Regions from separate parts of the Homo sapiens genome. Here regions 2, 3 and 4 are each linked to region 1. Evidence: fine-mapped expression QTL. A gene starts in region 1. Each other region holds a variant in brackets. All regions are shown on one strand. Distances are from middle to middle. Region 1 holds the start of IFITM2 (interferon induced transmembrane protein 2). Region 2 has its middle 11 kb from the start of B4GALNT4. Region 3 has its middle 23 kb from the start of B4GALNT4. Region 4 has its middle 19 kb from the start of B4GALNT4.

Evidence for each region.
Region 2: its variant is fine-mapped to the expression of IFITM2 in blood mononuclear cells (TOPMed, PIP 0.98).
Region 3: its variant is fine-mapped to the expression of IFITM2 in whole blood (INTERVAL, PIP above 0.99).
Region 4: its variant is fine-mapped to the expression of IFITM2 in whole blood (TOPMed, PIP above 0.99).

What each region holds. Positions count from the first base shown.
Region 1 is chr11:306,422-308,921 of GRCh38, reverse strand. IFITM2 (interferon induced transmembrane protein 2) reads right to left here and starts at 1,106. Exons shown (of 2, transcript NM_006435.3): 1 at 484-1,106. The coding sequence starts at 729. RefSeq lists enhancers at 1-65, 446-865.
Region 2 is chr11:357,458-360,085 of GRCh38, reverse strand. No RefSeq gene overlaps it. Among named protein-coding and RNA genes, the nearest start is that of B4GALNT4, 11 kb to the left of the region's middle. The variant G/A (reference allele first, on the strand shown) is at 1,528.
Region 3 is chr11:345,444-348,198 of GRCh38, reverse strand. No RefSeq gene overlaps it. Among named protein-coding and RNA genes, the nearest start is that of B4GALNT4, 23 kb to the left of the region's middle. The variant T/C (reference allele first, on the strand shown) is at 1,202.
Region 4 is chr11:349,416-352,170 of GRCh38, reverse strand. No RefSeq gene overlaps it. Among named protein-coding and RNA genes, the nearest start is that of B4GALNT4, 19 kb to the left of the region's middle. RefSeq lists a cis regulatory region at 880-1,356. The variant T/G (reference allele first, on the strand shown) is at 1,118.

The DNA.
Region 1 (2,500 bases):
GAGATCAGGGACCACCTCCTCCCCTTCCTCACCCGGCTCAGACTCTCCAGGAGCCTCGGGGCTCATCCTCCTTCTGCCTTGGCCCCAGCACAGGCTGTTCTCCCCACCATGGGGTGAAGTCACCTGTGAGTTCCCTTCTCACTTTCTGGGAGAGCCTGGGTGCCAGTCTGGAAGGTGAAGGTGTAATTTCTTACTGGGCTATAGGGAGAACTGCTCTGGGCTAGTGGATAGCCGGGGACAGACTCTGAGCCAGCCAGCCAGCCTCCTGGAGCCTCCTCCTAGACCTGCACTGGGCAGATTCCCCAAGCCACACACACACACAGATCACACAGACAAAGCCACTGACGTGGGCACACACAGGACAGACGTGCACACAAACTCACAGTCACAGGGACACACAAGTCCCCACCCCAGGCAGCATGTGGGCAGGTGGAGCCCCAGGCTCACCGGCACCCCCTGGATTTCCGCCAGGGCCATACGCACCTTCACGGAGTACGCGAATGCTATGAAGCCCAGGCAGCAGGTGTTCATGAAGAGGGTGTTGAACAGGGACCAGACCACATGGTCAGGCACGGAGGTCTCGCTGCGGATGTGGATCACGGTGGACATCGGGGGAGCAGGGTTGTGGGGCACCCCCAGCATAGCCACTTCCTGCTCCTCCTTGAGCATCTCGTAGTTGGGAGGCTGGCCGCTGTTGACAGGAGAGAAGGTTTGCACAATGTGGTTCATGGTGACCAGCGGTGATCGGGTTACCGGGATGGTTCTCAGTGAGCCCTCCCTTTCCCCAGTAGTTCCGTTTTCTCAACAGTTTCCTCTTCCTGGCATTTGTCAAATGCAGAGCTGGCCAGGGCCAGATAAGGGCAGAACAAATTCCTGAGGATCAAATTACTTTAGGAGAGGGAGGAAAGAGGGGCTGAGGGCTAAGAGGGGCTTCCTCTCTAGAGCCCAAAGGAGCACAAGTCTCATCTTGTTAGTGGTGTGGGGTCCTGGAGACTTCCCCTGTGTTGGGAGTCTCCACACCCCAGGCCAGCAGCTGCAGGACCTCACTGTCCCGGTTCAGGGCTCCTGCCAGGCCTGCGCTGACGCCTCCACACTCCAGGCCCCACAACCGTTTCCCCAAAGCCCTCACCTCTGCCGGGCGCCGTGGCTCACGCCTGTAATCCCAGCACTTTGGGAGGCTGAGGTGGGAGGATCATGAGGTCAGGAGATCGAGACCATCCTGGCTAACACGGTGAAACCCCGTCTCTACTAAATATACAAAAAAAAATTAGCCGGGTGTGATGGCGGGCACCTGTAGTCCCAGCTACTTGGGAGGCTGAGGTAGGAGAATGGCGTGAACCGGGGAGGCGGAGCTTGCAGTGAGCCAAGGTTGTGCCACTGCACTCCAGCCTGGGCAACAGAGCCAGACTCCGTCTCAAAAAAAAAAAAAAGCCCTCATCTCACTTGTCACAGGCCTCATCTGCTGACATCCCTTGTCCTTTGCTGGGGTTGCAGTCCTGCTCCATGCGGGTTTGGGGGTTAAAGGTCCCCGTGTCTCCTGGTGCAGGTCAGAGGGTTGGCGGCCAATGTTGCCTGCCCCAAAGGAGCCCTCCAGGCCCAGGAAAGGGGACTCTGGGAGCACTGACAGAAGAGGGGGCTGTGGGATGCCAATAGCAGAGACCTGGACGGTGGAGTTAGAAGCCATGGCCCTTTCCCCTGGAGGCCCACCTGGGTGACGGCTCCCAGACCCGCTCCACACAGCCCAGCAGCACCCACGCTGCCCAGAGCTCTGGCTGGCTGGTCCCTGGGGCACCCTCCAGATTTCCAGGTTCTGATCATCTCTGCCTCTTCCCTGGGTCCTCACACGGGTGCCAGCTGCTTCCTGTAGTTGCCGCCTGTTTTTCCCATGAACCGGTGCTGCCTCTGAGCAGCTCCTGAGGTTACAGCCTCCCTGTGGAAACACCTTGTGTGGCCTCTGGGCTTCTTCCTGGACCTTCCTTGGCAGAGGCTATTGCAGCAAACAGAGCTGATGCTGTGCACTTGAGCTTGTCAGAGGGGACAGTGCGGGTCACAGGGGCAGGAACGTGGCCTGCAGGCCTATGTGCACCGCGACCTGCGCCCTGTTTAATTCCTGATGTGCTACATGGGCCCATTTTCCTGGGCTTATTCTCCCACCAGGCCAGACTCCGCAGAGGACATCGCTGAGGGTGGAATTTACAGAGATGGGCAGCTGCTCACCCTGCTGTAGCCTTTCACCTCAGCGGGTGGTCAGGTCCACGTCAGTATTCCAGAGTTTACATGACGGTAGCGTGCAGCCGTGTAACTGCAGAGTGATGTGTTTGAGTAACGATGACTTTGGCTCTATAAGATAAATTTTATTGATAATTTCTAAGATTCCTAAGATTTAACTTTAACAATGGCTGTGTCTACCATCGACTCACAGTGCTTCTCGACGTCGAACACCCTAAGTCCTCCTCCTTCTGCTGGCTGGGGTGAGCTCTAAGGGCTTAGCCATGTCCAG
Region 2 (2,628 bases), 51 kb before region 1:
CTGTCTCTATCTCTCCCCCATCTCTCTCCCTCTGTCTCTCTCCCTCTCTGTCTCTATCTCTCCCCCATCTCTCTCTCCCTCTCTCTGTCTCTCCCCCATCTCTCTCTCCCTCTGTCTCTCTCTCTCCGTTTCTCTCTCTTTCCCTCTCTGTCTCTATCTCTCCCCCATCTCTCTCCCTCTGTCTCTCTCCCTCTCTGTCTCTATCTCTCCCCCATCTCTCTCCCTCTATCTCTCTCCCTCTCTGTCTCTATCTCTCCCCCATCTCTCTCTCCCTCTCTCTGTCTCTCCCCCATCTCTCTCTCCGTTTCTCTCGCTCTCCCTCTCTGTCTCTATCTCTCCCCCATCTCTCTGTCCTGTCTCTGTCTCTCCCCCATCTCTCTCTCCCTCTGTCTCTTTCTCTCTCTCTTTCTGTCTGTCTCTCCCCTGACATGCACGTGCTGAGGAAAGGCCCTGGGAGGACACAGTGAGTTGGAGCTTCTGAACCTGACCACGCTGGCACCCTGATCTCAGGCTTCCAGCAGCCAGAAAGGTGAGAAAATACATTTCTGTTCTGTGGTGTTTTGTAATGGCAGACTGAGCTGACTGACTCACTTCTATCCACCACACCTAGAGTTTTTCTGATGACACAGATCAAGTGAGGCTTCAGCAGGCAGCCCCCATGCCTAGGGGTGCCTTGATGGCTCAGCCAGCTCCAAGGGCTTCTGCAGGTGGAGCCATGCTGATCCCGCCTGGGCCACACCTCCTGTCTGTAGACATGAGGTGCCACCCCAGTCCTGCCATGCTGGGGCCGGCAGAGACCCCATTTCCAGGGCCCACTGCAACACCTAATTGTGCCTTTCACAATTAGGGAGGAGGGGGCATGACAACACAGTCAGTTTCGCTTTTTTTTTTTTTTTTTTTGAGAGGGAGTCTCGCTCTGTCGCCCAGGCCGGAGTGCGGTAGAGTGATCTCGGCTCACTGCAAGCTCCGCCTCCTGGGTTCAAGCGATTCTCCTGCCTCAGCCTCCTGAGCAGCTGGGAGTACAGGTGCCCGCCACCACACCCGGCTAATTTTTGTGTTTTTGGTAGAGATGGGATTTCACCAGGTTGGCCAGGATGGTCTCAAACTCTTGACTTCAGATGATCCACCTGCCTTGGCCTCCCAAAGTGCTGGGATTACAGGCATGAGCCACTGTGCCCGGCCCCAGTTTAGCATTTTTAAAAAACGAATGGACTTTATTTTTCGGAAGGGTTTGAGATTTACAGAAATAACACAGAGAGCTTCCCCGCCCCCCAGCTCCACCAACAGTTCCCCTCGTTTTTACCGTCTGGCTTAGTTCGGTGTATTTGTTATAATGAATGAACCAGTATTAATGCGTTATTGACCAAATAAAGTCACAGTTGGTCCAGAGTCCCTCATTTGTTTTCCCTGACATCCTTTCTGTGTTCCAGGACCGCGTTCCTCAGCGTCTGTCTCCCGGGGCCTCTGGGCTGGGCCGTTTTGCTTTTGACGACCTGGACAGCTCAGAAGAGGCCGGGTGTGTTGGCG[G/A]GGTGCCCCTGCTGAGATTCGCCTGCTCTTTTTGTCATGAGGAGGCTGGGGTTATAGGTTTCTTGGAAGAAGATTCCAGAGGTAAAGCAGCATCTGCATCCATCCTAACATCGCCGGTGCGACTCATAACTCGACGCCTGCCTCGTCTTCTGCAGAGACAGAGCCCGTCAGGCTCCTCTGTGCAAACCACGATGGATCAGCTCCATCGGTTTCTGCAGGTGGAGCCGCGCGGAAGGAGCCCAGCCCTTCCCACCCCGCGCTCTCTGGAAGGACGGCCCTGCGCCAGCCCACGTCGAGGGGCTGGGAGGGGCTCTGCTCCTCCTTAGGGGCAGTGTCTACGCCATTGGTTTAGAATTCTTCTGCACGGGAGATTTGTCTCTTCTCCCCCATTTATAAATTTATATCGCCATGCACTTGTAGGTATTTACAGCACACTTTGGGTTAGGATGTAGAATGAGGTGTTGCTCAAATTGTGGGAGTTCACTCAGTTGGACCCTGGGTCCACGGGCATATTTACATTGTGTGTGTATGCGTGTGCATGTGTATGTGTATACGTGTGTATGTGTACGTGTGTGTGCATGTGTATGTGTTTAGTGTGTGTATGTGTATGTGGTGTATATGTGGGTATATGTGTGTATGCATGGTGTGTGTGTATGTGCGTGGTGCCTGTGTGTACGTTGTATGTGTGGTGTGTATGTGCATTTGTGAGCATGGTGCATATCTGTGATGTGTATGTGTATGTTGTCTGTATGTGTGTGCATGGTGCATGTGTGTGTGGTATATGTGTATATGTGTGGTGTATATGTGTGGTGTGCGTGTGTGTATGTGTTTGTGGTGTGTGTATGTTGTGTGTGGTGTGGGTGTATGTATGGTGTGTGTGTGTAAAAGTGTGTATGTATGCGTGTTTGTGGTGTGTGCATTGTGTGTGTTTATGGTGTGTATGTGTGTGTTGTGTGCATGTTGTGTGTTTGTGGTATGTGTGTGTTGTGTGTATGTGTATGGTGTGTGTGTGTATGTATGTTTGTGGTGTGTATGTACATGGTGCCTTTGTGTGTGGTGTGTGTATATGTATGTGCATGGTGCACATATGTGTGTTTGTGG
Region 3 (2,755 bases), 39 kb before region 1:
AAGAATATAAATAGTTTCCAAATCAGGCAGATAGAAACAGATACGCTCCGAATTTTGTTTACAGAAGTATACTTTACTCATTTGCTAAAAGCTGTAAATAGCTCAACAGAAAAATTTTCTTGACTCTGAAAAACAAAAGATCAGCAACCTTTTCAACAAAGTTAAAAAGATTACTTCAGACTTCTTTTTTTTTTGAGACAGAATCTCATTCTGTCTAGGCTGGAGTGCAGTGGTGCGATCTTGGCTCACCGCAACCTCCATCTCCCGGGGTTCACGCCATTCTCTTGCCTCAGCCTCCTGAGTAGCTGGGACTACAGGTGAGCACCACCATGCCCGGCTAATTTTTGTATTTTTAGTAGAGACGGGGTTTCACCATGTTGGCCAGGATGGTCTCGAACTCCTGACCTCATGATCTGCCTGCCTCGGCCTCCCAAAGTGCTGGGATTACAGGTGTGAGCCACTGCGCCTGGCTAGCTTCAGACTTCTTTAGTCTATGCAGTTAACTCCTGTTTGATATTCATGAACATTTTAGCTCTCCAAGAGAGTCCTAAAGTTTTTCCCTCTTTTCTAATGTCACAATCTCCAAAGTTATTAGAAACCTGCATTTGAGGGCCGGGCACGGTGGCTCACGTCTGTAATCCCAACACTTTGGGAAGCTGAGGCAGGTGAATCACCTGAGGTCAGGTGTTCGAAAACAGCCTGGCCAACATGGTGACATCCTGTCTCTACTAGTAACACACAAAAATTAGCCAGGTGTGGTGGTGCATGCCTGTAATCCCAGCTACTGGGGAGGCTGAGGCAGGAGAATCAGTTGAACCTGGGAGGCAGAGGTTGCAGTGAGCCAAAATTGTGCCACTGCACTTCAGTTTGGGTGACAGAGCAAGACTCTGTCAAAAAAAAAAAAAAACCCACCAAAACAAAGAAACCTGCATTTGAGTGCACCTGGTAAAGTTTTGTTTTGTTTTGTTTTTGTTTTTTTTGAGATGGAGTCTTGCTCTGTCACCCAGGCTGGAGTGCAGTGGCTCACTGCAAGCTCCGCCTCCCGGGTTCACGCCATTCTCCTGCCTCAGCCTCCCGAGTAGCTGGGACCACGGGCACCTGCCACCATGCCCGGCTAATTTTTTGTATTTTTAGTAGAAATGGGGTTTCACCATGTTAGCCAGGATGGTCTCGATCTCCTGACCTCGTGATCTGCCCACCT[T/C]GGCCTCCCAAAGTGCTGGGATTACAGGTGTGAGCCACCGCGCCAAACATCATTTCTGTGTTATTATTATTTTTGAGACAGGGTCTCTTTCAGTCACCCAAGCTGGAGGGCAATGGCATGATCATGGCTAACTGCAGCCTCCACCTGTTGGGCTCAAGTGATCCTCCTGCCTCAGCCTACTGAGTCGCTTGGACTGCAGGCATGCACCACCACATTTGGCTATTTAAAAATTCTTTTGTAGAGATGGGGTCTTGCTATGTTGCCCAGGCTGGTCTTAAACTCCTGCGCTCAAGTGATTCTCTTGCCTCAGCCTCCCAAATTGTTGGGATTACAGGCATGAGCCACTGTGCCCAGCCCATTTCTGCAGTATTACTGCCAAAAAGGCATAACCTCGTTCCAAAATGGAAAAACATCAAACAAACACAAACTGAGTGATATTCTACAAGATAACTGGTGGATAGTCTATAAAAGTGTTCAGATCATGAAATACAAGGAAAAACTGAAGAACTGTCCCAGGCTGCAGGAGGCTGGGAGAAGTAACAATGAAATGCAAAATGGAACAGAACAGAAGAGGACATTAGTGAAAAAACCGTGAAATTTGAATAAGGTCTTTATTGAACAGCACTGTGCCAATGTTAATTTCCCACTTTTGGTAATTATATTACAGTCATGTAAGATGCTGTCAGTGGTGGGAGCTGGGTGAGGGAGGTACAGAAGCTCTCTGTACTGTTCTTGCAACTTTTCAGTAAGTCCTAAATTGTTTCAAAATAAAAAGTTAGAGAAAAAATCAATATTAAGTACCTGGAAAGAAATAATACAAAAGGTGGACTAACAAAGTGGCACATGACTGAGCGCAGGTCCTACAGCCGACCTTCCCGGCACAGATCGCTACCCTGTTGCTGTGTTTCAGCTGTGTGAGATTGGGCAGATTGCCTAACCTCTCTCTGTGTCTCCATTTTGCCTTCTGAAAAATTGGGCCAATAACAGCACCTATGTCAGCAGGTTGTTACGAGTGTTCAATATATATATGTAAAGCACTTAGTACCATGCTTGGTACAGGTTAAGCACTTAGAAAGTGATAGCTTTGGCCGGGCACGGTGGCTCACGCCTGTAATCCTAGCATTTTGGGAGGCGGAGGCAGGCAGATCACCTGAGATCAGGAGTTTGAGACCAGCCTGGCCAATATGGCGAAGCTCTGTCTCTAGTAAAAATACAAAAATTAGCCAGGCATGGTGGCGGGCACCTGTAGTCCCAGCTACTTGAGAGGTTGAGGCAGGAGAATCGTTTGAACCTGGGAGGCGGAGCTTGCAGTGGGCGGAGATCACGCCACTGCACTCCAGCATGGGTGACAGAGTGAGACTCCATCTCAAAAAAAAAAAAAAGAAAGAAAGAAAGTGACAGCCTTTCCCCCACCGAACAGATTGTGATAGAAGGAGTGCTGGCTTTTATAGTATTATGACGGCCAGAATTATAAAAAGGCAATGGACCCAACTGAAGAGTGGACATTGCGTCGCCAGCTCCGTTGAGAATGGTGCTAGGAATTATCGTGGAAGA
Region 4 (2,755 bases), 43 kb before region 1:
TTCTTGATTCCTTTACTTTCCTAATAAACTAACTTGCTTTCTTTTTTTTTTTTTTGAGACGGAGTCTCGCTGTCGCCCAGGCTGGAGTGCAGTGTCGCGATCTCGGCTCACTGCAGGCTCCGCCCCCCGGGGTTCATGCCATTCTCCTGCCTCAGCCTCCCGCGTAGCTGGGACTACAGGCGCCCGCCACCACGCCCAGCTAATTTTTTTTTTTTTGTATTTTTAGTAGAGACGGGGTTTCACCGTGTTAGCCAGGATGGTCTCGATCTCCTGACCTCGTGATCCGCCCGCCTTGGCCTCCCAAAGTGGTGGGATTACAGGCGTGAGCCACTGCGCCCGGCCAACTTGCTTTCACTTTATGGACTCCCCCTGATTTCTTTCTTGCATGAGATCCAGGAACCCTCTCTCGGGGTCTGGATCGGGACCCCTTTCCGGTAACATCTTTCTGGCGACCACAGAAGAAAAACTGCAGACTCAAAACCTAGCGTTGGGTAGGTGACATATCTCTGGTGACCTCAGGAGGGGCTCCAGTGCGGAAACCCCCGACCTAAAGGCTAACTTTGGGTAAGTAGTGGGGTCCGGTAACATCTTTCTGGCAAACCCTGAAGGGACAATACTGAGGAGGAGCCCCCGACCCAAAGGAAATAGACTCGGCCCTGACTGGACGACGCTGGGTAAGTGGTGGGGTAGCCGGCGAAGGATGGGATTGGGTGAGAGGCCCACTTAGGGGAGTTAGGGTCTGTCCTAAGACAGAGAGGGTGAAAGCCCACTCTTAATACAAGGCAAGGATGCTTGACCCACCTTGGGTTAGAGACCCACCTTAGGAGGGTTGGTTAGGGTCCCTTTTAAGATTTAGGGGCTTAGAGAGCCCCCTCAGTAAAGTCCCTCTCAGAAAAGTCCCTCTCGGCTGAGAACGGGTTCGGCACGAGGGGACGTTAACGGCTATTCTCTTTGGGTTAATCTGCCTTGCACTCTCTGCTGACGGCTGTGGGTGACAGGATTAGGCACGTACAGGATCGTGGAACATGGGGAGCTTTCTCCTCTCGCAAAAGGGGAACCTGAGAGCTGATGGGACTGCCGGAAAAAGTCCCTTCCCAACAGCAGCCGCCTGAAGTCC[T/G]CAGGGTTCCTGCAATGGGCGGGTCTTTCTCTGGCCTCCCTGAGCATTTTGCCTTCCCCACCCTGCCTCAGGCGATGCTTTTCTCTCTCTCCTTTCTCTTTTTTATCTTTTCTATCACTTGGGGCAACCGACTTGCCCAGAGAACACGTGTTGAAACTTGTGGTTGGAGGTTGGATTAACGATGACCGGAGCAAGTTTGAGCCTTGCCAGTGTGATGTTAGGTGCTAAGCAGAGTGGCTGATGTCTCTGTTTTCTCACACGTATTTTGCCCTGGCCAGAACGGAAAGAGGTAACTTCCTTTGTGCTGCAGCTTGGCCCCCAGGGCTGTGGTACAGCCAGTCGTAAGGGAGGAGACCACCCCTCACATTGTCTTATGCCCAATTTCTGCCTCCAGAGAAAGAAGTTAAAAGGCAGAAATGAAATCCACAAGCAGACAGCCCAACGCCACACCCTGGGCCTGGTAGTTAAAGATCGACCGCTGGCTGATCTAATCGGTTATATTACCTATAGATTCCAGACATTGTATAGAAAAGCACTGTGAAAACCCCGTCCCGTCCTGTTCTGATTACCGGTGCATGCAGCCCCCAGTCACATACCCCCTGCTTGCTCAATCGATCACGACCCTCTCACGTGGACCCTCTTAGAGTTGTGAGCCCTGAAGAGGGACAGGAATTGCTCACTCGGGGAGCTCGGCTGTTGAAGATTTGACTCTTGCCAAAGCTCCCGGCCGAATAAAGCCCTTCTTTAACTCGGTGTCTGAGGGGTTTTGTCTGCAGCTAGTCCTGCTACAGTTGGGTCACTAGGGCCCCCCAGGAAAAGAAACCCAGAAATCTGTCATGCTGGCACAAGTGCAAGAACTGCTCACCAGTCAGACTTCTGTCTCTGTGTGTGTGTGTGTGTGTGTGTGTTGTGTGTGTGGGTGTGTGTATGGTGTGTGTGTGTGGGGTGTGTGTGGGTGTGTATGTGGTGTGTGTTTGTGGTGTGTGTGTATGGTGTGTGTGTGGTGTGTGTGTGTGGGGTGTGTGTGGGTGTGTATGTGGTGTGTGTTTGTGTGTGGTGTGTGTGTGTGGTGTTTGTGTGTGGTGTGTGTGTGGTGTTTGTGTGTGGGGGGTGTGTGTTGTGTGTGTGGTGTGTGTGTGGGTGTGTGTGGGTGTGTGTGTGTGGGGTGTGTGTGGGTGTGTATGTGGTGTGTGTGTGTGGTGTGTGTGTATGGTGTGTGTGTGGTGTTTGTGTGGTGTTTGTGTGGGGGGTGTGTGTTGTGTGTGTGGGGTGTGTGTGGTATGTGTGGTGTGTGTGTGTGAGGTGTGTGTGTGCGTGTGGTGTGTGTGTGGTGTGTGTGTATGGTGTGTGTGTGGTGTGTGTGTGGTGTTTGTGTGTGGTGTGTGTGTGGTGTGTGTGTGTGGGGGGTGTGTGTTGTGTGTGTGGGGTGTGTGTGGTATGTGTGGTGTGTGTGTGTGAGGTGTGTGTGTGCGTGTGGTGTGTGTGTGGTGTGTGTGTGGTGTGTGTGGGGGTGTGTGTGTTGTGTGTGTGTGTGTGTGTGTGTGTGTGTAAACTGGACGAGGCTTCCCTCTGGTCCGTCATGTCCTTGGGACCTTGGCCTTGTAACCACGTGGCCGTACTTTCTCTTGGTTTCTGCCA